Linked DNA regions of Homo sapiens. The protein of the gene in region 1 purifies or fractionates together with the protein of each later gene. This does not show direct contact. Each region holds a gene or a part of one and is shown in the gene's direction. Other genes may lie near its edges. The genes, in order: FBXO10, ZNF496, PRDM1, KIAA0232, BLTP3B, TOMM70 and MTFR1L.

Region 1 (3,495 bases):
CGGGTGCGGTGGCTCACGCCTGTAATCCCAGCACTTTGGGAGGCCGAGGTGGGTGGATCACCTGAGGTCGGGATTTCGAGACCAGCCTGGCCAACATGGTGAAACCCCATCTCTACTAAAAATACAAAAATTAGCTGGGCATCATGGCACGCAACTGTAGTCCCAGCTACTCGGGAGGCTGAGCCAGGAGGATCACTCGAACCTGGGAGGAAGAGGTTGCAGTGAACCCAGATCACACTACTGCACTCCAGCCTGGGTAACAGAGCAAGACTCCGTCTCGGAAAAAATATATATATATATTAAAAAATAAAAGTAAAAACAAAAAAAACCCAGAAATCCTGCAGTATGTAGTCTTTTGAGTCTGGCTTCTTTCACTTAGCCTAACATGCTGGAGATTCATTCATGGTGTTGCATGTAAGGCGTTCATTCCTTTCAATTGCTGAGTAGTCTTCCCCTGTATGGGTGTACTGCACAGTTTATTCACTCATCAGCTGAAGCGTATTTAGGTAGTTTCTAGTTTTTGGTGATTATGAATAAAGCTTCTATAAACATTTGTGGTCATAGAGCTGAAAAGAAATGAAAGAGGAAAAGCTGGCACCGTGGCACACACCTATAATCCCAGCTACTTGGGAAGCTGAGGCAGGAGGATCACTTGAGCCCAGGAGTTTAAGACCGGCTTGGGCAACATAATGAGACCCTGTCTCACAACAACCACCCTATGATCTTATCCAGATCCTTATTTAAAGTGGAGAAGTCGGCTGGATGCAGTGGCTCAAGCCTATAATCCCAGCACTTTGGGAGGCTGAGGTGGGAGGATCACTTGAGCCCAGGAGGTTGAGGCTGCAGTGAGCCATGATCGTGCCACTGCACCCCAGCCTGGGCAACAGAGTGTCTCAAAGCGGGAAAATTGAGGCCTACAGAGGGACCTTGTCCAAGGCTACATGCAGAGTTGAAGGCAGAGCTGGACGTGGAATGCAGGGCTTTTGCTCCTTAGTTTCTCAACAGCCCACCTCTTTGGACTAACACTAAACTGGAAGATAAAACCTACACCCAGATTTAAACACCTGGATCCACCGATCTGGAACCCAAGTTAAGACTGTGCAGGGCATTCAGCCAGCACTGCACACCCCTCAGAAGTTCACTGACTTTCGTTTTGCACCTCCAGGTCTGATACGTGGCGCCTGGTGAACCCACCAGCACGGCCCCACCTTGAAAATTCTCTCAGACGTCCCTCGGCAGCCCACAATGGGCAGAAGGTGACAGCCATGGCAACGAGGATCACAGCCCGGGTGGAAGGTGGTTACCACAGCAACCGCAGTGTCTTCTGCACCATCCTGTGAGGACACAGACCTGCTTCAGGGCCAAGCCTGGATGGGTGCTCAGAGGAGCTAAGGTGGAAATACTGCCTGAAAAGACTCCGCCCCTCCCCCTCCCCCTCGAACAAATGGGTCCCGGGCCTCCAAAACACGGTACCTCCAGAACACTTCAGCTCCACAGCCCATAGCAAGAAGAAAGTGGGCAATGTTTTTCAGGGAGAAGGGATAGAAGCTGGTGGGTTTCCAGTCACTCGAAGTCTATAAAGATTGTGAAGAGCGGGGGAAGCTCAAATGCTGAAGCTTTTGGTCAGGATTTTCTCTGAGTTCTAAGGAACTGTGTTTTACACACACCAAACCCAGACTCTTCTCAGGAAAGAGCAGATTTACTTCTGATGGCGGGAAGTGATTCTAGTGAGGTGGAGAGAGACAACTGCTCCAGAATTTTCCCCTTTGCTAGAGCTGTCTCCCTCTCAATCCCTCCAGGGACCCCACCACACCCTCCCAGCTGTCTCTGGAGGCTGGAGGAGTTGAGTTTGGTTGACTTGAGGACTTGGACATGGACCTGGGAGGAAGGAAGGACCTGGGAGCAACAGGAGACCCCATGGAAAGGCTGCCCCAGGGATGACAAGAGGGACATGCTGAAACAGGTGGGGCTGCAGCGTGCAGGCAGATGCTAGGCTGGGTGGGCAGGGATGCACAAGGCTCTACTCCATCCCCAGAGAGCTCCCAAATGCAGAAGGATTCAAACCCCATGTGAGCGTGCCCACACCAGCCGCCCCTCCTGAGCATCAGCCTGTTCAGATGAGGGTACCTGGGCCTCTCGTTCGCATCTGTGTTCTCATGGATGAGCGCTGGTCTTTACTGACCCTCCCAAGCCTCCCCACTCTGTGCCTTGGCTCATGCTCTTTCCTCCTCCCGGCATGCCCTTCTCCCCCATCTCCGTGTCCTCGTTCCTCAAGGTTTAGCCGAGACACTGCCACCTCCACATAGCTCTCCCTGCCCTCTTTCCCCCTCTGGGCCTCAGTGGCCTTTCTCTGCTCCCTCTCAGGGTACTGAGCACTTTCTGCCTTGTCCTGGAGCTATCTGGGTCCATTGCCTGACCCCCCACTCACCTGTGTGCTCCCCGTAGGTAGGGCCACTTCTGACTGTGTGTCCCCAGATCCAGCCTGGGGTTGGGGTAGGATTAGTGGCCTGAGTGAGGAGAGGAAGGCCAGCTCCCAGAGGACTTTACTGAACCGTACTGTGAATATGTCCAAGTCCCAAAGCCAGGTGAGGTCAGACCCCACTGCCTGAGGAAGAGGGCTGGATGCAGGGCCAGCTCAACCTGAACAATCCCCTCCCACTCGGCCTTTCCTGTGGGGCCTTCACCAGCCTGCTGGGGTCACTGTCGTGCACTTGGCTGCGTGGCTGGTTCTATTGGCCCTAGGTGCTGCTCTGTTGGGTGGGATGGGAGGGGGTAGAGGGAGCCAGGAGCACTGGGTTCTCCCTGAGAACACTGGGCACAAGAGTACTGGCCTCTTCTATCCCTGGCACTGTCCTTTGCACTTGTTTGGTGGCCCCAATGTGAGTCGCTGTAAAAAATGCTGCCGTTACTATTTTCTAAGAAATGACTTTTCTGTGAACCAACAGTAACAAAAACCTCAGTAACCAAAATAAAGTTCTATATTTTAAAAAAGGCACTTTTGGAAGCCTTTCCTTAGTCTGGGCATATACTGGGGCTCCCAGCTGGCCAGGCCCAGCACTGTTTCCTCTGAAGGAGACAGGAGAATCCTGGGGCCATCTTGTTGGGTCAGCTTGTTCCTGTGACAGTTCCAGATATAGGGCTGAAGGGCTCAATCGGGCTATAATTCCACTCCTGCCTGCTCTGTGAAGACAACAGAAACAGGCCGTCCCCATGGATCACTGGACTGTCAGCTTAGGGACCTCAGACCCCGGAGCACACTTCCCCAACTTCACTTACTCAGCATCTTAGAATTTTTGCTATATCCATATGTCACCTGAGAAGTTAGTACTTTTTTCTTTAAATCTACTTAATTTTTAGAAGTTTTAAATATGCAGAAAAATTGAGCAGACAGATGATTACTAGAGTTCCCATATCACCCTTGCCACCCCCGAGTTTCTGTGTTATTAACATCTTATGCTATCAGTGTACATTTGTAAAAATTCATAAACTAGTACT
Region 2 (3,500 bases), on another chromosome or scaffold:
GCTCAAGCACTGTGAAGACCCTGTGGTGATTGATGATGGGGACAGCCCTCTGGACCAGGAGCAGGAGCAGCTGCCGGTAGAGCCCCACAGCGACCTTGCAAAGAACCAGGATGCCCAGCCCATAACCCTGGCACAGTGCCTGGGGCTCCCAAGCAGACCACCAAGCCAGCTCAGCGGGGACCCAGGTATGCAGCCCAGGGGAGTGTAGCAGGGGTGATCTGGGGAAGTGCACACCCCATACTGTGCACTGGGTGTGGTTTTTGTTAAGCTGATGGCTTTTACATCAGCAGTGTTCTCGTGTCCCCGAGGTGCTGTGAGCTGTTGTCAGGGTCTGAGTCCCTTCCTAGAGCAATTAAATGAGAACCTCATCAGGATGTTTGTCCTCTTCATGGTTCTAGAGCCTCTCAGAGCTAACGCTTCTGTAGGTGGGTGTCACTGAGGTGGTGCCCTCTCATCTCTTCGAGGGTGCATCTCTGCAGGATTTGTCAGTTTGATGACAGCTGGGGACTGCCAGTGTACAGCTGGGGCCTGCTGCATGACTGGAGCATGGCCATTTCTTGTCTCTTGGAACCTCTGTTTCCTTGGCTAAACAACTCCTGTTTACAGGAGTATTGTGATGCTGCGAAGAGATGTAGAAATACTTAGGAGGACACAGGGTGGTGTCTAGTGTGTGGGGCCAGAACATCAGCTACACATAGTTTGAGTATGTATATGAAGTACATGGTAGCTACAGGAAAGTAGTTTTTTCATCAGATAAACTTAGATTTGAATCTTCTGGTTATGACCTGAGGCATGTTTCTAAACTCTGAAAGCCTCAGTTTCTTCCTCTGTCCAGCAGAGATAGTAATTACCTTTTTTGGGGTTTTTGGACAATTAAATGAGATACAACCTACAAAAGGTTGAACACAAGGCCTGAGGTGCCCAAAACTTTAAGTACATATCATGGGAAACCAGCGCCCTTGGGTTGAAGGAAGTCTGGCCCGTGGGTTCCTCTGGGTGGACTTGCCACGGTGCTTTATATGTACAGTGGAAAGAGAGTGTCTGGGGGGCCAGGGGGGCTTTCTTATGACTCTGGGTGGACTTGCCATAGTGCTCTATAGGTACAATGGAAAGAGAGTGTCTGGGGGGCCAGGGGAGACTTTCTTATGACTTGCAGAAGTTGTGTTTGGCATTATGATAAGCTTTTCAGTAATAAAACCAAAATGCCTATTAAATTTCTGTGTGTGGAAAAACTATATTGACTTCTGTACAAATCACATAAACTCTTCAGCCTTTTCTTGCTTATAAATCAAGTTTGGTGTGTTGTTGGCTGCCATAACAAAGTACCACAGACTGGATGCCTTATGTAACAGAAATGTATTCTCTCACAGTTCAGGAGGCTGGAAGTCTGAAGTCAATGTATCAGCAGCCTTGGGTTCTTCTGAAGCCTCTCTCCTTGGCTTGTAGACATGCCTAATGTTAACACTAAGAGAAGTTTGCAGATAGACATTTAGAAGGAGCTAGGGGTTGGGCGCGGTGGCTCACGCCTGTAATCCCAGCACTTTGGGAGGCCAAGGCGGGCGGATCACCTGAGGTCAGGAGTTCGAGACCAGCCTGGCCAAGATGGTGAAACCCCATCGCTACTAAAAATACAAAATTAGTTGTGTGTGGTGGTGGGTGCCTATAATTCCAGCTTTTCGGGAGGCTGAGGCAGGAGAATCACTTGAACCTGGGAGGCGGAGATTGCAGTGAGCTGAGATCACGCCATTGCATTCCAGCCTGGGTAAAAACAGTAAAACTCCATCTCAAAACAAAACAAAAAAAAAGGAGCTAGGAGGGGAAGTCTCTTATGCCACTGGCTCTCTTTGGGACCCGTAAAAACCCATGAATATCCGGCCCTGAAAGCTGACAACAAGCTTTGTGCCAGGACTCTTGATGACGGGCGGTTTTCTTTCAGGGAAAGGAAGAGGAAGATGTTTACACTAAGAGAAGTTTGCAGAGCAGGTGTAACAGACACCTTCTCTCTCTGGGTCTCTTTATGTGGTCTTTCCTTTGTGTGTGTCTGTGTCTTAATCTCCTCTTCTTATAAGTACACCAGTCCTATTGGATTAGGGCCCACCCATATGACCTGATTTTATCTTAATGACCTCTTTAAAGACCCTATCTCCAAATACTCAGTCGCATTCTGAGGTACCTAAGGGTTAGGGCTTCAACATAGGAATTTGAGAGGGCCATAACTTAGCCTGTAACAACAGGTATAAGGGAAGCAGCCAGTCGCCCACATAATGCACGTGCAAGTAGCTTGGGTTATGCAGGAAGTGGGGGGCTGTGAGAGGCCTTGTAGTGGGGTCTGGGAAGGCATGCAGGTGGAGAGGAAGAAGTTTCAGGAACTACAGTAGCCTGTGCAGTTGCTTCTTGATAAAGTTCTGAGATAAGCCAGCAACCACAGATGGGCTTTAGGAAAACAGGGCCAGCTCTCCCATTTCCATGAGCAATAATCAATAGGCAAAGTAGGTATGATGAGAGTTAGCAATCAGGAAAACCTTAACTATTGGGACAGTTCATCATTGGAATGCACTACCTATCAGAGCTGTATAGTTCCTCATCTTGAAGATCTTCCCCAAAAGCTAGATTTTGTGTAGGGTCTGCAACTCTCCGAAGTGATTCTTGAAAGGGTCCATGTATTCATTTATCGGGGCCAAAAGTAGGGTGGGACTACATATTCATATATATATATATATATGTGTGTATATATATATATGTATGTATATATATGTGTGTGTATATATATGTGTGTGTATATATGTGTGTGTGTGTGTATATATGTGTGTGTGTGTGTATATATATATATGCGTGTGTATATATATATATACATATGTCTCAGCCTCCCAAAGTGTTGGGATTACAGGCGTGAGCCACTGTGCCCGGCCAACATGATTTTAAACTTGGAGAAGGGAGGGCTAGGGATGGGAAGGAGTTAGCCAGGTTACCCAGTTAGGGGGCATCTCCATTCATATATATATGAATATCTGGGATAGCTACATATCCCAGAAGGTGGCAGGTGTGAGGAAGCAGAACTAAAACACCACCTCCTAGCCAGGCATGGTGGCTCATGCCTATAGTTCCAGCTACTCAGGGGGCTGAAGCAGGAGGATTGCTTGAGGCCAGGAGTTTGAGACCAGCCTGGGCAACATAGCGAGAACCCACCTCTAAAAAATAAAACACCCCCTCTGGGAGACATCGGTCAAAGAGTACAAAGTTTCCGTTAGGTAAGATGAATAAATTCTGGAGATCTATGGTACAGCATGGTGAGGTTGATGAAAAATAATGCATCTTATACTTGAAAATTGCTAAGAAAGTAAATAAGAAATGTTCTCGTCACAAAAATATATGAGGTATAGATTTGTTAATTAGCTTAATTTAATCATTTCACAATGTATAGTTATCACATTGTACAGTTTTCGTATACAAAATACATACAATTTTTGTCAATTATAGCTTAATAAAACTGGGAGGTAAAA
Region 3 (3,500 bases), on another chromosome or scaffold:
CGGGGTTCCACTATGTTGGCCATGATGGTCTCGATCTCTGGACCTCGTGATCCGCCCACCTTGGCCTCCCAAAGTGCTGGAATTACAGGCAAGAGCCACCGCGCCCAGCCAGGAATGACAAATGAATTACCTTATAAGTAAATGCCATTAAGGAAGGATAGCTGGAAGATGGGTTGAGGGGAATGGAGGACCACAGAACTAGTCCTATTTAAATACATGTGCATGGTAAAATGATTCCATTTGACAATAGGTTAATTATCTCATAGCATAAGGAAAATGCTTAACAGTCATATGCAAGATGATAAGCTTTCCTATAGCATCCAACCAAAAGATCTAGCCAGTACAATTTCCTTTGCTATATTAGGGTTAGAAAGGCCCCCAGAGGTGAACCAATTAGATGGAATCCTTGAATAAAACACTGGATTAGCAGTGAACAGAAAAAAGTCAGATTGCTTTCCTTCTTCCCATAGATGTCTCAGGGATATTTAGTTTCCTCAGAAGATAAAGAATTTAGTAAGCGTTTTTTTGTGCATACTTACATGAAATGTACATTATTTGAATTCTTTAAAAAGAAACAGCTGCATGATAACAAAAATTGTGTTATGCTTGCTTTAGCTGGTATTTTTGCCTAGAACGATTATATCGTTCGGACAAGAAGCTATTCCTAAGAAACAATATTTTTAATCCAGGAAGTTTTTCATTTTTAGAAATTTATCTTACTATTTCCCAAGCAAAAGAGGGTAGTTACAGATTCACTAAGAATCATGTGCTCACAATTTTTATTTAATAATTATTCCTCCTTAAAATATATTAATCACCTGACTTACAATGGTGGAACCATGAGTGCATTTTTGCCTTTATTGTCAATAACGTCTTCTCAGAAGTGAGCCACAAAGGTGCATAGTTCTTGGAGTTAAAGGTCTGAATTAAGACAATCCAGCATAAGTCTCATTAATGTGTGATTATTTTGAGAAAAGGCAAGAAGTACCTAAGAATCTCCCCCTCACTGTCCAGTTCCCTGTTTCATTTAAAGATTCACTGTAAGTAACTGAAAGGCTTTCCTTGGGAGGATTTATTTGAATCAGTCTTTCACATGCAAAGGATATTGTAGAACATCTCGTTTTTGCTGGCAGGAATATGAACATCTGTTGTGAGGAAAGAAAAAGTTTCATGCAAATTACACTGCCAAAGAAGGGATGTTCAAGTTGAGAAACCAGTGACATTTCTTGTAACTGTACTATGAATCAGCGCATTTTAATCTTCTAGATAATATATGGAAGTGCAGGAAGGTGGTAGGAAACGGTGTTCATTTTACATATGCGTTATTTTATTCTGTGTGAGTGACTTCATGGCACCGACATTGCTGTTTTTAAATGAGGATACAGTAAATTGCAGTCCGAGGAAGGCTAACTGGAATCAACATACCCGTAGCTTTAGAAAGCAGTTTCCGCACCAGCGAAGAGTACAAGAGCGATGGAACCCCATGTTCCTGGAAGTTTGCACATCAGAGTAAACAAACTTGAAAACCCCTCTTGATAGCAGAATTCACCCAGCCTTGTTCCATTTTCTCTTAACAAAACACACCGCAAAAGCTCTCACAAGCTGCTTTGATGAAGCCACATGTATTTCCCCCTTCACAATTTACAGGAAGTTACTCTTAAAAGAAAGTGATTCTGGTGTTTACCGCCTGTGTTAAAGGGACAGAGTTCCTTTTTATTTCTGATAACGTTTGAGCGAAATACAGAAACTATCTGTAGACTAGCATAGTCGGTACGTGAGTAAGGAAAAGCAATAACCTGCTGTCCGGTGAGCACAAAATTCCTGCTACGAACAGTGCCTTACTGCTGCTTGGAGACTGCAAGTCGCAGATCACACTAGGTATTGACTGATTGTATAAGGAAATTTCTTAAAGTCTAAAGTAAAGGTGGTACCTCCTAAAAAGAGGGGAAGAGAGAAAACTTTGTGTGGAAGGATAAGGAGTGTGTTTATAGTTTCAGTAAGAGTGTACGTTTTAATTTTTCTTCTTCCTCTGCCTCTTTGCCAAGTAGCCTGAGTGCATCTGTTATCCAGAAGTAGTATTACTCTAGGACAAACTTCAAATTCTTCATTCTGCGTTGCCTTTAAGGAACAACATACTTTCTTCCTGTTCTTTTTCCAAAAACACACGCCTATGGCTCTGTGTGTGGTGTTTTAGCCAGCCTCCTCCCAGATAAGGGGTTCCCTTCCCTCCTTTGCATTGAAAGGAAAGTGCAAGTCTGGACATGTTTATCAAGAGGAAAAGTGACTTCTCAGTAATAGACTGTCAAATTCGGGCTGCTGCCCGAGTGTTCGCTTTGTTATGGCAGGTGAAGTTCACCTTTGCCCCACCCAGTGTTTCCACAAAAAGGCAAGGTTCCAAGTATTCATATGAACAAGTGTTACTTTAGGACTTGGAGGGTTGGGGGTGGAGGATGTTTGCATAGTTGAAGCCTTGGGCGGGGGTGTAGGAAACGGCGAGTACAGAGGCCATAGAAAAAGCTAAGACTCAGTTTGACGTCGTCAGCCGGCTTGGTCTTCTACCCAGTGACTCAAAGCACTAAAAGTCAGCATAATCGGAACTGAAGTCAGTAGCATCGCCCATTTGCCATTCACTGCAGTAGCAAAAGTAGTACTCTGTGGTGGGTTAATCGGTTTGAGGCAGCTCCTTAAATGAACATTTGTGTTTCATTTTTCTGTTATTTTCCCGAACATGAAAAGACGATAAAACTGAAATGGAAAAGGTAACTGACAAAAGTGTGCCTTACCTGTTTCCGCCCTGATTTCTGCTGATTCAAGACTATTCTGGCTAAACTGATTGGATTCTTTTTCTAACTAGGCAGTAGGGGATCAGAAATCACACACGGTACCGGCTGTGTTTATTCTGAGAGGTGCTGGGGAGCTTTGGGTCTGACTTCCTTTTACATGCCTGTCTTCTCTTTTGGACAGATCTATTCCAGAGGGGAGCTTCACCACTTCATTGACGGCTTTAATGAAGAGAAAAGCAACTGGATGCGCTATGTGAATCCAGCACACTCTCCCCGGGAGCAAAACCTGGCTGCGTGTCAGAACGGGATGAACATCTACTTCTACACCATTAAGCCCATCCCTGCCAACCAGGAACTTCTTGTGTGGTATTGTCGGGACTTTGCAGAAAGGCTTCACTACCCTTATCCCGGAGAGCTGACAATGATGAATCTCAGTAAGTGGATTACAGAACAAAAAAATAAAAAATGCCAGTAATGTCGGTTCTGCCCCTTTGAACTAATAACATGTTGTTTAATTATACGGCTTTGTCATGTGTTGGATGAAGTAGGTGGCTTAAGCTAGGGACTAGGAAGAGGAAAAACATTTTTTGAGTCCCTATTAACTATTAGGAAACTTGATCATTTAAAAGTATATATATATATGAGGAGCTACCTTGAGTTTTGAATTCAGGATGTTACAGGAAGAAATATATGTCCAATTCTAATTTATCCAAAAGC
Region 4 (3,500 bases), on another chromosome or scaffold:
TCAAAAAAACATCTAAACTAGAATCCGTCTGTGGTATTCAGCTAGAACAAAAAACAGAAAACAAAAATTTTGAAACTACACAAGTATGTAATGAAAGTCCACATGGAGATGGCTACAGCTCAGGGGTTATTAAAGACATTTGGACAAAGATGGCAGACACAAATTCTGTGGCTACAGTAGAAATAGAAAGAACTGATGCTGAGTTGTTTTCGGCAGATGTAAATAACTACTGCTGCTGTCTAGATGCTGAAGCTGAACTGGAGACCCTTCAGGAGCCTGATAAGGCTGTGCGGAGGTCAGAGTACCATCTGTGGGAGGGACAGAAAGAGAGCCTGGAGAAAAGAGCATTTGCTTCTAGTGAGCTATCAAACGTGGATGGTGGTGATTATACAACACCCTCTAAACCCTGGGATGTAGCCCAAGATAAAGAAAACACATTCATTCTTGGAGGAGTTTATGGAGAACTCAAAACCTTCAATAGTGATGGGGAGTGGGCAGTCGTACCACCTAGTCACACAAAAGGAAGTCTGTTACAGTGTGCAGCTTCTGATGTTGTGACGATAGCTGGTACAGATGTCTTTATGACCCCAGGAAACAGTTTTGCTCCTGGGCACAGGCAGTTATGGAAACCCTTCGTGTCATTTGAACAGAATGATCAGCCGAAGAGTGGGGAAAATGGGTTAAATAAGGGATTTTCTTTTATCTTCCATGAAGACTTACTAGGAGCTTGTGGCAACTTTCAAGTCGAAGATCCTGGACTTGAATACTCATTTTCTTCCTTTGACTTAAGCAATCCATTTTCACAAGTTCTTCATGTAGAATGCTCATTTGAACCTGAAGGGATTGCATCTTTCAGCCCCAGTTTTAAACCGAAATCAATCCTCTGTTCTGATTCAGACAGTGAAGTGTTTCACCCCAGGATATGTGGTGTTGACAGAACACAATACAGGGCTATTCGGATCTCTCCTCGGACTCACTTTCGCCCAATTTCTGCATCCGAACTGTCCCCAGGAGGAGGAAGCGAGTCAGAATTTGAATCTGAGAAAGATGAAGCAAATATTCCCATTCCTTCTCAAGTTGATATATTTGAAGATCCGCAGGCAGATCTCAAACCTTTGGAAGAAGATGCAGAGAAAGAAGGCCATTACTATGGAAAATCAGAGCTTGAGTCTGGAAAATTCCTTCCCAGGTTAAAAAAATCTGGGATGGAAAAGAGTGCTCAGACATCACTGGATTCCCAGGAGGAATCAACTGGGATTCTTTCAGTAGGAAAGCAAAATCAGTGTTTGGAATGTAGCATGAATGAATCCCTGGAAATAGATTTAGAAAGCTCAGAAGCAAATTGTAAAATAATGGCACAATGCGAGGAAGAAATTAATAATTTTTGTGGTTGCAAAGCAGGTTGTCAGTTTCCTGCTTATGAAGATAATCCAGTTTCTTCGGGACAGCTGGAAGAGGTATGTGTCTGCGTGTTGGTATTTGACAAAAGGATTTGATCAGAGTTTAACCCAAGAACAGACATGCCAGTCAATGAAAGATAGGGTTAAATTATTGGGAAATTAGCTTAAATGTCTTAAAACTTAAATTGTTCTAATTTTACATGTAAGGACTTAAAATGGATTTGATATTTATGAATTTGAACTAGACAGTAGAGTTTTTCTGGAGAGAAAAAGCTTTTAAAAATCACAGGATGTAAGATTCCTATGTGTTGTCTTAAGATGCATGTTATTGGCCGGGTGCAGTGGCTCACGCCTGTAATCCCAGCACTTTGGGAGGCCGAAGTGGGTAGATCATTTGAGGTCAGGAGTTCAAGACCAGCTTGGCCAACATGGTGAGACCCCGTCTCTACTAAAAATACAAAAATTACCCAGGCGTGGTGGCAGGCACCTGTAATCCCAGCTCCTTGGGAGGCTGAGGCAGGAGAATCACTTGAACCCGAGAGGCAAAGGTTGCAGTGAGCCGAGATCGTGTTCTGTACTCCAGCCTGGGTGACAGGGTGAGACTCCATCTCAAAAAAAAAAAAAAAAAAAAAATACATGTATTATGCTTAAAGCAAAAACCTAACATGAAAGTGTTCTAACATTCAAAGTTGATGAATCAGGAAGTGGCTGCTATTAAAGTGTAGCAAACCTGTCTAACTGACTCTTAGAAGTTGATCACTTTATCAAAACTTGTGTTTTACATATAAAACAAATTATATCTCTATGGAGTTCTCAAAAATACATTGTGGTACATGTAGAAATTCACCCACAGCCCAAATGCAACAAAATTTCTTCTACAGAACCTATACAGATGTATCTTGCTTTATACAAAGTACATATTCCAGAAGCTGTGTGGATTATATGTTAAGGCTATGGAATGAGGATCACATTAAGTTGTGTTAATGAGAGTCATTGTACCTCTCCACTGTATGCCCAAGAAATGGCTTAAGGTTAAACTGATTGTACAAGAAATAACACTTAAGACAATAAACTGTTTCACAAAAAAAGCACAGCAGTCTGCCCATTTTTCCACTGTTTTCGATATGTGAGTGCCTAGCCTTTCTCCAGAAATAGTTTATTTAATTTTGTTTTTGTTTTTGTTTTGTTTTGGGGACAGAGTCTCGCTCTGTCGCCCAGGCTTGAGTGCAGTGGTGCGATCTCAGCTCACTGCAACCTCCACCTCCCAGGTTCAAGTGATTCTCCTGCCTCAGCCTCCCAAGTAGCTGGGATTAAAGGCATGCGCCACCACGCCCGGCTAATTATTTGTATTTTTAGTAGAGACGGGGTTTTACCAGGTTGGCCAGGCTGGTCTTGAACTCCTAACTTCAAGTGATCCACCTGCCTTGGCCTCCCAAAGTGTTGGGATTACAGGCGTGAGCCACCGCGTCCGGCCCAGCTTATTGAAAAAAAGAGATGGAGGTGTTTAGAAGCCATGCCACCTGTGGCCAGAGAGCAGATGAGTGTTGCACTTCCTCCCAACTGTCCTGCACACCCTACCCACCATTGCACATCCAAATCCTACCCATACCATGAGACTTATTTCATATACCACCTCCTTCACTGACACTTTCCCTAATTCCCTCTCTCCCCTGCTCCAGCCCCACTCTGCATCAGAATTAATTTTGCCCCTCTCTTAATTTTCATGCACTTTATGCCTCTTTTTGATTGCATTTTTCATTTCTCATGAGTTATTTATATCCTGGACTATAAGCTCCTTGTGGCTGTGGACCATGCCTTACTTATTTGTCGCATCAGAGTGCCCAGGTGTGGGACTGCTTGCCTGTGATTCTAGGAAGCCCCCAGGCGACTTGAGAGGCACTGCTCTAATCAGCTACCTAGAGACCCGTAGAGGATGAATTTAATCCCATTGAAACACTGCTAAGAAAAAACCCAATAATATTGTTAGCCTTTATCTGTTTGTTTATTGCCCCATTTTTCATCCTTAAATATTCCTTTATGTACTTTGTATTTCACCTGGTTCCAGATTGGGAAGAAAGAAAAAGAGGAAAGAAGCAAGAT
Region 5 (4,077 bases), on another chromosome or scaffold:
CGCCACTATGCCCAGCTAATTTTTGTATTTTTTTTTTGTAGACACAGAGTTTCACCATGTTGGTCAGGCTGGTCTTGAACTCCTGACCTCAAGTGATCTGCCTGCCTCGGCCTCCCAAAGTGCTGGGATGACAGAAGTCGTCATTTTAATCTCTGAAAATGTTAGCTCTGTTTGGGATTGGGTGGGGTGGAGGTGTAGAATTGTAACAGTTTTCCCTAGTTCAACAATTTCCTTCCTTCCTTACAGAACTTTTCATATGATATTTACACCTTTAGGTTCAACCTAGTGAAGTGGGTAAGGCTGATGATTAATCTATTTCACAGATGATTAAAATGAAACTAATAGTAAAGAAATTATTTTCCCCAGGATAACACAGCTAGAAAATACCAGAGCCAGGACTTGAATTATACACCTTCTAATTCCTAGGTCCTAGACTACTAGGAACCATTGTCAACCTTTACTTCCCTTAGAATAGCAATAACCAAAGGAAACATTAAATTGCCACATTTAGGTAAGGGAAAGGCAGGACACCTTAACAAAAGAAAAAAAAAAAACACCAAAAACAAAAACCTAAGGAAGAATATGAAGAAAGGTGAGTAGGTCAAGAGAGCAAAGCAAGCACAGGAGTTAATGGCCGATTCTTAAAACATTCTAAGGAGGCCGGGTGCAGTGGCTCACGCCTGTAATGTCAGCACTTTGGGAGGCTAGGAGGGTGGATCACGAGGTGAGAAGTTCGAGACCTACTGGCCAATATGGTGAAACCTCGTCTCTAATAATACAAAAATTAGCCGGCCGTGGTGGTGCGCACCTGTAATCCCAGCTACTCAGGAGGCTGAAGCAGGAGAATCGCTTGAACCCTGGAGGTGGAGGTTGCAATGAGCCGAGATCGTACCACTGGACTCCAGCCTGTGTGACAGAGCAAGACTTGTCTCAAAAAAAAAAACAAACAAGCAAAAAAATAAAAAACATTCTGAGGAAATGAATAAGGGAAGTAGGACGTGGAAGTAAAAATCAGCGACGGGTCAGCGATGGAGGCGGGAACACCAGCAGAGGGAAGGAGGGAGGATTAAGGCCAAGAAGGATGGTGTATTGAGAGTCAAGGGCCCTGTGTCGCGAGGGCTAAGAACCCTGGCGCCAATGCCACAAACCTCCCGCCCCCGCCCAGAGCCCAGCCAGAGCCCAGCCAGAGCCCGCCCAGAGCCCGCCCAGAGCCGGCGTTGGCCCCGCCCCGCCTCGTGCCGGCCCCGCCTGGAGCCGCCCCGCCCCCGCCCTCCACCGAGTCTCTTAGGTGATGCTGCAGCCAAGATGGCGCCCGCGGCGGCCGTGGCGGCCTGAGCGTGATGCTCCGGGTTCTCGGCGGCGGCTGTGGCCTTGGCCGGGGCCTTGGGTCTCTCCCGGTCGTGAGCGATCAGCGCCTCTCCGCCGGCCGGGCTAGCCGGGACAGAGAGGAGACGGCCACGAAGAGAGGAGGCAGTGAGCAACAGGACGAGACCGCGGCGTCTCCAGCCTCGGTACCATGGCCGGGATCATCAAGAAACAAATCTTGAAGCACCTCTCCAGGTCAGTGAGCGCCTCGGTGTCGGCGCCAGTCGGCCTCCACCCCAGCCCGCACTGGAGTCAGCCTGCGGCTTCGGGGGCGGCGGCGCCTGGCGGCTGTGCGGGAGGCGACCTTCGGACTTCCCCGCTCTGGCCGGGGCAGAGGTCGCGGCCCCGGATCTCTTGTCGCCGGCGGCGCCGGGGGCTGGCCTCACGAATCGGCCCCTGACGCGTCTTCTCCCAGGGTGGGCGCGCGGAGGAGCCCGGAGTGCGGAGCGCGGCGGGCTGGGATCGCTCCCGGCGCGGCGTCTGGGGGCGTCCCGGCTCGGCTCTGTGCGGTACTGAGCGGAGGCTGGAGGTGGCCTGGCGTCACCCAAGTGCCTGGTTAATGTGCTGGGCTCTAACTCGAGTTCGGTGCTCCTTCCCCTTGGAGCAGAGCGGTTCCGTTAACCGAGGGCTTCTGGCGCAGTGTGGACGCTCAGTGGAGGCTGTGTTCTCAGTGGAACGTTAACCTTGTGATTGTTCTGAATTCCTCCCACCTTGGCGTTCCCGCTCTGTGGCATCAGAGGGTGTGCCTGTTTGCACAGTTAGGATTTGTTTTAGGTAAATAAGCAGAGTTCGCAGCTTTGGCAGGTTCTTTCTGGAGTCCTATGAGACCCACATCATTATTACTGAACATTTTTTTTTTTTGGTTTTTGCTCTTTTTCCTCTGCAACTCTAAAATTCAGGGAGTTAACATCTGTGGTGATTAAACCCAAGACATGTCATTCTCTCCATTTCATAACGCGGTTTTAGTCAGAAACATGACTCAGTAAGGCTGGCAGTTTGTTACTGCTCTTGGCTTCTCCGTGTTTGTCTCAAGACACAGGCTAAATGTAGGCTCTTGTTCCAAGTTGTTACCAGCGAACTCAAAGCCCTTGGTTAGGATCCCTTTCTGTTCGATTTGTAAGTTAATTTTAACTAATTTTGGGAAGACACGGGTATGATTATAGACTTGTATAGTAAACATAATTCTTGATTCCCCAGATTGTCTTATACCACAGGTTATATATTGGGAACAGAATTCTACTTCTGTGATTCAGCAAATATTTTCCTCACTTATAATACTGAATAAGATATAGCACTTTTCTTAAAAGTAGCAAAGTATAGCAGCGTGTGTGTGTGTGTGTACATATATATACATATGTACATATATACATATACATATATACACATATATACACATACATATATATGTGTACTACATATATATGTGTATACACTACACATATATATGTGTATATATGTAGTATTTTTTTAGTAGAGACTGGGTTTCACCAGGCCAGGCTGGTCTTGAACTCCCAACCTCAGGTGATCCGCGGTCCTCGGCCTCCCAGAGTGCTGGGATTACAGGTGTGAGCCCCCACGCCCTGCATGAATATGTATTTCTTAATGTTATCACTCATTGAAAAGTTTCTTTTAAAATTATATATATGGCCCAATCTTGAACTATCTTATTTTGGAAGGTTTTATCTATTTTTAATTTATGTCCTCCCGCCTTTCTCATACCCAGCTCCACAAGAAAATACAGATCTGCAGAAAATGATTTGAATGCCTACTTTCTCACTCGTCCAAGGATGATGCTGCATAGCTAGTACCACTCTAGATGCTTGGAAGAAAAGTTAATTCAATCAACAGATAGTGCATTAGAGTTTAATTCTTTTATAGAACTCCATTTGAGAGGGGCTCTTAAAAATTAAGAGCATGCATACCAAAGTATAATAAAAAAAATTAAGAACAAAGATGTAATGGCTTACTGCATGAGATAGAAAACACCCATATATTGAAAATTGAGTCTTTAGGGCTAGTTTTTATTTTATTTTATATATATATATATATATATATATTTTTTTTTTTTTTTTTTTTTTTTTTGAGACAGAGTCTCACTCTGTTTCCCAGACTGGAGTGCAATGGCATGATCTCGGCTCACGGCAGCCTCTGCCTCCTGGCTTCAATCAGTTCTCCTGCCTCAGCCTCCCGAGTAGCTGGGATTACAGGCATGCGCCACCACGCCTGGCTAATTTTGTATTTTTAGTAGAGACAGGGTTTTTCCATGGTGGTTAGGCTGGTCTCAAACTCCCAACCTCAGGTGATCCGCCTGCCTTGGCCTCCCAAAGTGCTGGGATTACAGGTGTGAGCCACCGTGCCTGGCCCTTAGGGTTAGTTTCTAAATCTGTATGATTTGTAATAGCTGTGTGATAAATAGTGTGATGAGGATTTTTTTTTTTTTCAGAGATGAGTTTTTGGGACACTTGAGTTTTCAGTTATTTCATATTTCAAAACATCCTTAACTCAGGTGACTAAAGAGTATCAAATTTTTATTTTTGGTTAATAAGTTAATCTTACTGCTAATTGCTGTCATCTCCTAAGAAAAATAGTTATTCAGAAATCTAAAGGCAGCTCGTAATTGACAAAAGAAGGCAGGTGTTGTGATAAATTATAGTTACTCAGGAAGGAATGAACTTTTGAAATTACCTGGTTCAAGTTTAATTTTATAGAATA
Region 6 (3,500 bases), on another chromosome or scaffold:
GGCTCACTGCAAGCGCCGCCTCCCAGGTTCACACCATTCTCCTGCCTCAGCCTCCTGAGTAGCTGGGACTACAGGCGCCCACCACCACACCTGGCTAATTTTTTTTGTATTTTTAGTAGAGACGGGGTTTCACCGTGTTAGCCAGGATGGTCTTGATCTCCTGACCTCATGATCCACCCGCCTCAGCCTCCCAAAGTGCTGGAATTACAAGCGTGAGCCGCCGCACTCAGCCTGTTTTTTGTTTTTGTTTTTGTTTCTTTTGGGATGCAGTCTCCCTCTGTTTCCCAGGCTGGAGTGCAGTGGCGCAATCTTGGCTCACTACAACCTCTGCCTCCCAGGTTCGCGTGATTCTCCTGACTCAGCCTTCTGAGTAGCTGGGATTACAGGCGCTCGCCACCACACCTGGCTAATTGTTTTGTATTTTTAGTGGACATGGGGTTTCACCGTGTTGGTCAGGCTGGTTTCAAACTCCTGATCTCAAATGATCTACTGCCTTGGCCTCCCAAAGTGCTGGGATTACAGGCATGAGCCACTGCACCCGGCCCCAATATATGCTATACTTTTATACATCTAACAGCATAGTAGGTTTGTTTATACCGGCAGCACCACAGATACATGAGTAGTGCATTACAATGGCTGTGACATCACTAGGCAATAGGAATTTTTCAGCTCCATGATAATCTTATGGGACCACCATTGTATATTCAGTCTGTTATTGACTAAAACATTGTTATGTGGTGTATAACTGTACATTTTCATAATGGGATTTTAGTGTTTCTATCAGTAATAGTTCTTTTGCGAGATTGACGGTTGTTTGTTTCCTACACTAGTCTACAGTATGGTCCTTCAGGATAAAGACTACACTGTTGGTTATTGTATAGTAGAATCATATCAACTAAAATAAATTCAATTATACTTGCTTGGCAAAAAGAAAAAGATGTAATTATCCTGATGATTCTGTTTGTCTTTAACTTTAATGACCTTTTGTCTTGGAGCCAGTGGTGCATGAGACAATGATACTTGAGTTTGTTTCCTTTGTTTCTTTTTTTTTAGATGGAGTCACACTCTGTCTCCCAGGCTGGAGTGCAGTGGTGTGATCTCGGCTCACTGCAACCTCCGCCTCCTGAGTTCAGGTGATTCTTCTGCCTTAGCCTCCTGAGTAGCTGGGACTACAGGTGCCTGCCACCATCCTGGCTAATTTTTCTATTTTTGTAGAGACAGGGTTTCACCACGTTGGCCAGGCTGGTCTCGAACTCCTGACCTGAGGTAATCCACCCGCCTCAGCCTCCCAAAGTGCTGGGATTACAGGCGTGAGCCACTGCACCCAGCCAATTGAGTTTATTTTAAACCTTTATTAGATAAATGAAGATTCATGATTATTGTGCCTTTTTTACAGATTGAACCTTTTATCAGTAAAACTATCTGGACATCATGTGATGCTTTTGAATGGTATTTTGTCTATATTACCTTAATTTTTATTTTTTAGTATTCACCTTCCACAACTTTTTACATTCCTTTTTTAAAAAAAAATTGTTTGGCCTTAGTATGTCATTTGGTTTTACATCATGCCTTATAGGCAGCAGGTAGTTAGTTTTGGTTTTAAACAATTTGAAAGTCTTTCAATGCAGGGCTCTAAACTACTCACATTTATTTTTACTATTTACATGTTTAGCAATTACTGCCATATTTACTCTGCTTTTTTGTTTCTTATTTTTCCTTCCTTTCTGCTTTTTGTTGTATTGGTCATTTCCCTATTTGGGGGTTTATTTTTAGTGGTAAGGAAGCTGTACATTTCTATTTCTGTTCTTGTGTTCAACCTCAAATGCTAGTTTAGCTAGGTATAAGACTTTAGTTACAAAATAATCTTGCTTTAGAACTTTGAAATTGTTACTTAATTGGTTTTTAGTACCAAATGTTGGTGACAGTCTGGCACTGGATTGTTTTTCTTTTTAAATACTTTCAGGATTTTTGTTGTGAAATTTCACCATGATGTGTCTAAAAATGCATGTCATTTTTCTTCAACTCCGAGAATTTCTCCAATTCCTTAGATTTTTTTTTTCTATGCCTTTCCTTTTAGAACTCCACATAGGCAAATGATGGAACTTCTGGATTTATACTTCATGTCATTTAATTTCTCCAAACTTCCCACCTCCCTGTCCTCTGTTTCCATGGCATTCTGTCAGGTTTCCCCCATTCTCTACTTGTTAATTTGCTCCTCAGCTCGCTTCTTTAATATACAGCCAATCTGCTGAATTAATTGTAATAATCTTTTTTCATTTTTAAGATTTCTAATTAGTGCTCTTTAAAAGCAACCTCTTTTAATGATGGGAAGATAGCCTCTCATTTTTTTGAAACTAAATTTTTTGTTTGCTTGGTATATCCTGCTTTCTCAGATACTACTTTTATATTTGAGTTGGGGGCCTCTTTTTTTATGGGTTGTTTTTCCCTTTTGTTAGCAATTCTCGATTGTGTGGTCTCTTAAAAAACAGAGGCAAGGTATGGTATGCCCTGTCACTGTCATTTGTCTCTTTTAAGAGAGTCTGGTCTCAATGTCTCAATATGTTGTCCAGGCTAATCTCAAACTCCTGGGCTCAAGCAGTTCTGCCTCAGCATCCCAAGTATCTGAAACGATAGGTGTGTGCCATGGTACCTGGCCACTTGTCTCTCATATAGAAGATCCTCACTCCTGAATGACACAGCCCTACTCTAATGTGATTTCTGCTTCCTCCAGTGGAGTGGGAGGATTGTTGAGGTTGTCTCAAATGCAAGTTTTCTAGCAATCACCCTGACGATTGCCCCCCAGAGCCCACAACTACATAAGGGATTCCTAGTTTTGCTTTATTGTGGGTGTTTTGTGGGTGTTTCTCTGTCAGTCCTGTAGCAGTCTCTGTTAGTCCTGGCACATATTCATAGTCCTGAAACATATGTATCCTTGAAATTAAATTTATGTCTCAAAGCTTTTGGAACATAATTAAGTCTACTGACAAATGGAAGATTTTAAGTTCATCTATTAATTTATATGTGCTTGTCTTGGTTCCTTTCATCCTCCCACATCAGTTTTAAAATATACATTCTGGTTGACACTAGCTAGCTTAAAGTAGCTATATAATATTCTGATCTTAGATACTTAGAGCTTCCTAGAAATCCTTTGCGCACTTTAAATCCTTTAAAAACTTTAAAGTACTGCAGCCTTTTTGAAAAAGTCTGAGTGTTTTTGAAATTAAAAACATATAAGACTCCAGCCTGGGCAACATGGCAAAACCCCATCTCTACTAAAAATTAAAAAATTAGCCAGATGTGGTAGTGCACGCTGGTAGCCCTAGCTACTCGGGAGGCTGAGGCAGGAGAATCACTTGAACCTAGGAGGTGGAGGTTGCAGCAAGCCAAGATTGTGCCACTGCACTCCAGCCTGGGCGACAGACCCTGTCTCAAGAAAAAAAAAAAAAGTATATACGTGTGTGTGTGTGTGTGTGTGTGTGTGTGTGTGTGTCTGTGTCTGT
Region 7 (3,500 bases), on another chromosome or scaffold:
TGGTGACCATTAAATCCCCACTGTGGGGGGTTGTTTCACAAGAGGGAAATCTGGTGCTCCTCCAGATGGCCTGATATGAAGGAGTCACGCCTCCCGCCTCCCGGAGCTGCCCAGTGGCTGCCTTGTCCTTCAAGTGCAGGAGCTGGTTCAAATGTCAGGAATGGAAGCCACTGTGGTAAGGGGCATTCCCAGGGCAGGGGTATGGTGGGGAAGGTTGGGTGCTGGGCCTGCTGAAGTACTGTAAAAGGTTCTGAGACTCTCCAGTTGAGCACTCCTTTCTCCAGAGGCCTGGAATTGGAGCAAGGCCACCGTTTCACTCCCTCCCCCTAAGAAGAACCAACTATGATCCTGGGGCACTTCAGGAGTCAGTGTATGTCTGCCTTTCTGTACAGAGGACGGGAAGGAAAGCCTGGATAATCTCTACACTCAGCTACTTCCTCTCCCCTTCCCTGACCCTCCCAACATTGACTGCCTTAGCAGCAGCAGGTATTCCCTTGGGTGGCTGGCCAGGGTGTAGGCTGGCAACTGGGGAACCTGCCCTCACTATAATTGAGAGTTGACTTGCCCCTAGAGAGTGCCCTGTCCCTAGGTTTGTGGAATTCAGTCTCCACAAACCTAGAGAGGAGAGGACAAGGACAGTAGTTGGATTCATTCTCTGGGGTTGTAGCTGTCTCCGTCTCTTTGCTCCAGACCATCCCAATCTGGCAAAACAAGCCACATGGGGCTGCTCGAAGTGTAGTAAGAAGAATTGGGACCAACCTACCCTTGAAGCCGTGTGCCCGGGCGTCCTTTGAGGTGAGTATGTTGGAAGGGCAGGAGAGTAGAGGCTCAGACAGTGCTGCTTCTGTGCCCCAAACCCCTTGGTACTGCCCAAGTAGGTTGTTTCCTGGTCACTTTTCATTCTGTTATGAAATATTTGTTAAATGCTTATAAGATATCCTGGTCACTGTGTCCTCCTGAGTGCATACAAACCTGTGACCACAAGGAACCTGACAGGTCCCCCACATGGGACACTGACTATTGTGATTTTTGAGTTGAACTCTGCTTTTCTTCACCAGCCCTAAGAATTGACCATGTAGCCAGTATTTTTATTTTATTATTTTTTGAGATGAGGTCTCCCTATGTTGCCCAGGCTAGGTCTTAAACTCCTGGGCTCAAGCAGTCCTCCTGCCTCAGCCTCCTATGTAGCTGGGATTACAGGCACAAGCCACCATGCCCAGCTCCACTATTTTTAGTGTTTCTCTGAGGCCATAATTCCTCAGCCTTCTCTTTTTGGCCAATCTGGGCATCCTTTACTGGGGTGCTTTGGTCTTACCTCTGTGTCTAGGGATCCTTTAGCACCCACTCAGCAGCAGAGATTCCTACCTGGCCCAGGTCTCTTGAGACCCCTTCTGTGGTAGAAAGCTAAGTAGCATTTATTAGTCCCAGCTGCCTCCCTCTAGGAACTAAATGGTTAAGCACCAGCCCCAAACTATATGGTTCAGATGTGTGCATTTGGAGAGCTGGGATACAAAAGAAATACTTGTGCTTTCTACCCACACAGAGGAGATAGAAATATGTGCATGAAAGGATGTGGGCCCAGGTAGAAACAGAAATGAAGGAGCCAAATCTGTATAAAAGATGCTAAGAAGCAGAGTCTGTAGGAACTGGATCTGGAATTAGAAGAGGTGTCAGGGTTGGTATTAGGGTCAGGAATGGAGTTGGAAGTGTCGCAGGGGTAGGGGGCAGGAAAAGCTGTCCCAGTATTCAGATTGCCAGCTATCCAGAATTGTCTAAAGATCCTGGGCAGGAACTGGTCCTAACTTGCCTCAGAAGCATCAGAAAAAAAAAAGGGAGACAGCTAGGGAGTGTGGCTCACTGCATAGAGGCCGTCCCCACACTTGGCTATACCCTCTTCAGTTCTTTGGCCAGATGCTGGGCAGAGACAATCAAGGGCACAGGCTCTCACAGAGCAGGAATGTATGTGAGCAGTATTGGTAATACTAGATAACATTTACTGAGCACATACTATGTGTCAGGCACTGTGCTGTACTTTATATTTGTTTACTCATTTAATTGCCAAGAGCAAAGGAGCATTCAGGGCTAATCAGGAAAACAAATGGAGGCTTCCCCCAAATGCCCTATTTTAGCACTAGTTCCTGGGTCACTGGAAGTTCTTCTCTGTGTGACCTTGGAGTATCACTTAACTCCTGTGAGTCCCAGGTTTCCTATCTAAATGCAGGAGCGATCAATCCTGGATCCATCTACCATACCAAATAATTTGTAGCAGAAACAGTTGAATCTTACTTGTGTGTAAATATGCATTTATTATTATTATTAAATTACCTTAAATATTATTTAAGGGACTCTTACCAATTTATTTTGAAAATTTAAGCATATGAAAATATTAAAATTATGAAAAGTAAAAGGAAAATAAATTACCTATAATTACATAGTAATAATACAATAACTATTAATGTCTTAGTGTAGTCCTCTTTTTCTAGATGGATGTTTTTTACTTTGTTGTAATCACAGTCAACATGACTGAATCCTAATTTTTCACTTTACTCAACATCTCTAGGTTGAGGAGCTATTTTAAGAAATCCTATTATGGTTCCTTTTGTATAATCATTTATTTTTATTTAAATCTAAATATATTCAAATTTTCAGGTTTGTTTAAAACAGCATTGCTGTAACAATGTAGATCTCAATTAGCTATACAGGATTATAAAAAGCTAGTCAGGAAAAATTTCCTATTGCTGTAACAGGTTGTGGATGACCTTGTACTTGTATTTTCACCAGAGGGCACAGTGGTTTTAGACAGTTGCCATCTCTACTAAAAGGTGACTCAGGCCTTTTCCACTGAAGACACAGAACTGTTTGTAATCCCATAGACTCTCATGTGTCTTGCCTGTTTTTGTTTTTGAATGTGGCTCTGTTGTCCACGCTAGAGTACAGTGGTGCAATCTCAGCTCACTGCAACCTCTGCCTCCCAGGTTCAAGCCATCTTCCCACCTCAGTCTCCTGAATAGCTGGGACTACAGGCGTATACCACCATACCCAGATAATTTTTGTATTTTTTGGTAGAGGCAGGGTTTTGCCATGTTGCCCAGGCTGATCTCAAACTCTTGGTCTCAAGCATTCTGCCTGCCTCGGCCTCCCAAATGCTGGGATTACAGGTGTGAGCCACCATGCCTGACTGTCATCTGGCCTCTGTTCAATGTTTTCGACCAGGAACCTTCTTCTGCCCCCTCTAGGAAGCCTTCCTGACACCCAGTGCCGGATTAGGTACCCCTCCTGTGTATTCTGCAGTTTCTGATTGGCTCATCATGGCATCTGTAAATGTTGATGACTTTTGCTTCTCCATAGACCCTGCCCAACATCTCTGACCTGTGTTTGAGAGATGTGCCCCCAGTCCCTACCCTGGCTGACATCGCCTGGATTGCTGCGGATGAAGAGGAGACATATGCCCGGGTCAGGTAGTTGAGGCAGTAGCTGGTCTGCTAAGGAATGGAGAACTT

The links.
Region 2: the proteins of FBXO10 (region 1) and ZNF496 purify together in Homo sapiens (affinity purification with mass spectrometry; one large-scale study listed by BioGRID and IntAct). This does not show direct contact.
Region 3: the proteins of FBXO10 (region 1) and PRDM1 purify together in Homo sapiens (co-immunoprecipitation; one study listed by IntAct). This does not show direct contact.
Region 4: the proteins of FBXO10 (region 1) and KIAA0232 purify together in Homo sapiens (affinity purification with mass spectrometry; one large-scale study listed by BioGRID and IntAct). This does not show direct contact.
Region 5: the proteins of FBXO10 (region 1) and BLTP3B purify together in Homo sapiens (affinity purification with mass spectrometry; one large-scale study listed by BioGRID and IntAct). This does not show direct contact.
Region 6: the proteins of FBXO10 (region 1) and TOMM70 purify together in Homo sapiens (affinity purification with western blotting; one study listed by BioGRID). This does not show direct contact.
Region 7: the proteins of FBXO10 (region 1) and MTFR1L purify together in Homo sapiens (affinity purification with mass spectrometry; one large-scale study listed by BioGRID and IntAct). This does not show direct contact.

Annotation. Positions count from the first base shown.
Region 1 is NC_000009.12:37,510,392-37,513,886, reverse strand, and holds the end of FBXO10 (F-box only protein 10), read left to right. Parts: intron 1-1,165; coding exon 1,166-1,340; 3' UTR 1,341-2,995; downstream 2,996-3,495. UniProt on the Homo sapiens protein: Substrate-recognition component of the SCF (SKP1-CUL1-F-box protein)-type E3 ubiquitin ligase complex. Mediates the ubiquitination and degradation of BCL2, an antiapoptotic protein, thereby playing a role in apoptosis by controlling the stability of BCL2.
Region 2 is NC_000001.11:247,325,368-247,328,867, reverse strand, and holds part of ZNF496 (zinc finger protein 496), read left to right. Parts: intron 1-1; coding exon 2-185; intron 186-3,500. UniProt on the Homo sapiens protein: DNA-binding transcription factor that can both act as an activator and a repressor.
Region 3 is NC_000006.12:106,096,336-106,099,835, forward strand, and holds part of PRDM1 (PR domain zinc finger protein 1), read left to right. Parts: intron 1-1,753; exon of another isoform or gene 1,754-1,878; intron 1,879-2,605; exon of another isoform or gene 2,606-2,750; coding exon of another isoform or gene 2,751-2,759; intron 2,760-2,964; coding exon 2,965-3,217; intron 3,218-3,500. UniProt on the Homo sapiens protein: Transcription factor that mediates a transcriptional program in various innate and adaptive immune tissue-resident lymphocyte T cell types such as tissue-resident memory T (Trm), natural killer (trNK) and natural killer T (NKT) cells and negatively regulates gene expression of proteins that promote the egress of tissue-resident T-cell populations from non-lymphoid organs.
Region 4 is NC_000004.12:6,862,727-6,866,226, forward strand, and holds part of KIAA0232 (uncharacterized protein KIAA0232), read left to right. Parts: coding exon 1-1,457; intron 1,458-3,465; coding exon of another isoform or gene 3,466-3,500.
Region 5 is NC_000012.12:100,140,075-100,144,151, reverse strand, and holds the start of BLTP3B (bridge-like lipid transfer protein family member 3B), read left to right. Parts: upstream 1-1,277; 5' UTR 1,278-1,516; coding exon 1,517-1,560; intron 1,561-2,386; exon of another isoform or gene 2,387-2,481; intron 2,482-4,077. UniProt on the Homo sapiens protein: Tube-forming lipid transport protein which mediates the transfer of lipids between membranes at organelle contact sites. Required for retrograde traffic of vesicle clusters in the early endocytic pathway to the Golgi complex.
Region 6 is NC_000003.12:100,387,590-100,391,089, reverse strand, and holds part of TOMM70 (mitochondrial import receptor subunit TOM70), read left to right. Parts: intron 1-3,500. UniProt on the Homo sapiens protein: Acts as a receptor of the preprotein translocase complex of the outer mitochondrial membrane (TOM complex). Recognizes and mediates the translocation of mitochondrial preproteins from the cytosol into the mitochondria in a chaperone dependent manner.
Region 7 is NC_000001.11:25,822,954-25,826,453, forward strand, and holds part of MTFR1L (mitochondrial fission regulator 1-like), read left to right. Parts: exon of another isoform or gene 1-65; 5' UTR 66-151; coding exon 152-175; exon of another isoform or gene 176-653; intron 654-690; coding exon 691-795; intron 796-3,348; coding exon 3,349-3,458; intron 3,459-3,500. UniProt on the Homo sapiens protein: Mitochondrial protein required for adaptation of miochondrial dynamics to metabolic changes. Regulates mitochondrial morphology at steady state and mediates AMPK-dependent stress-induced mitochondrial fragmentation via the control of OPA1 levels.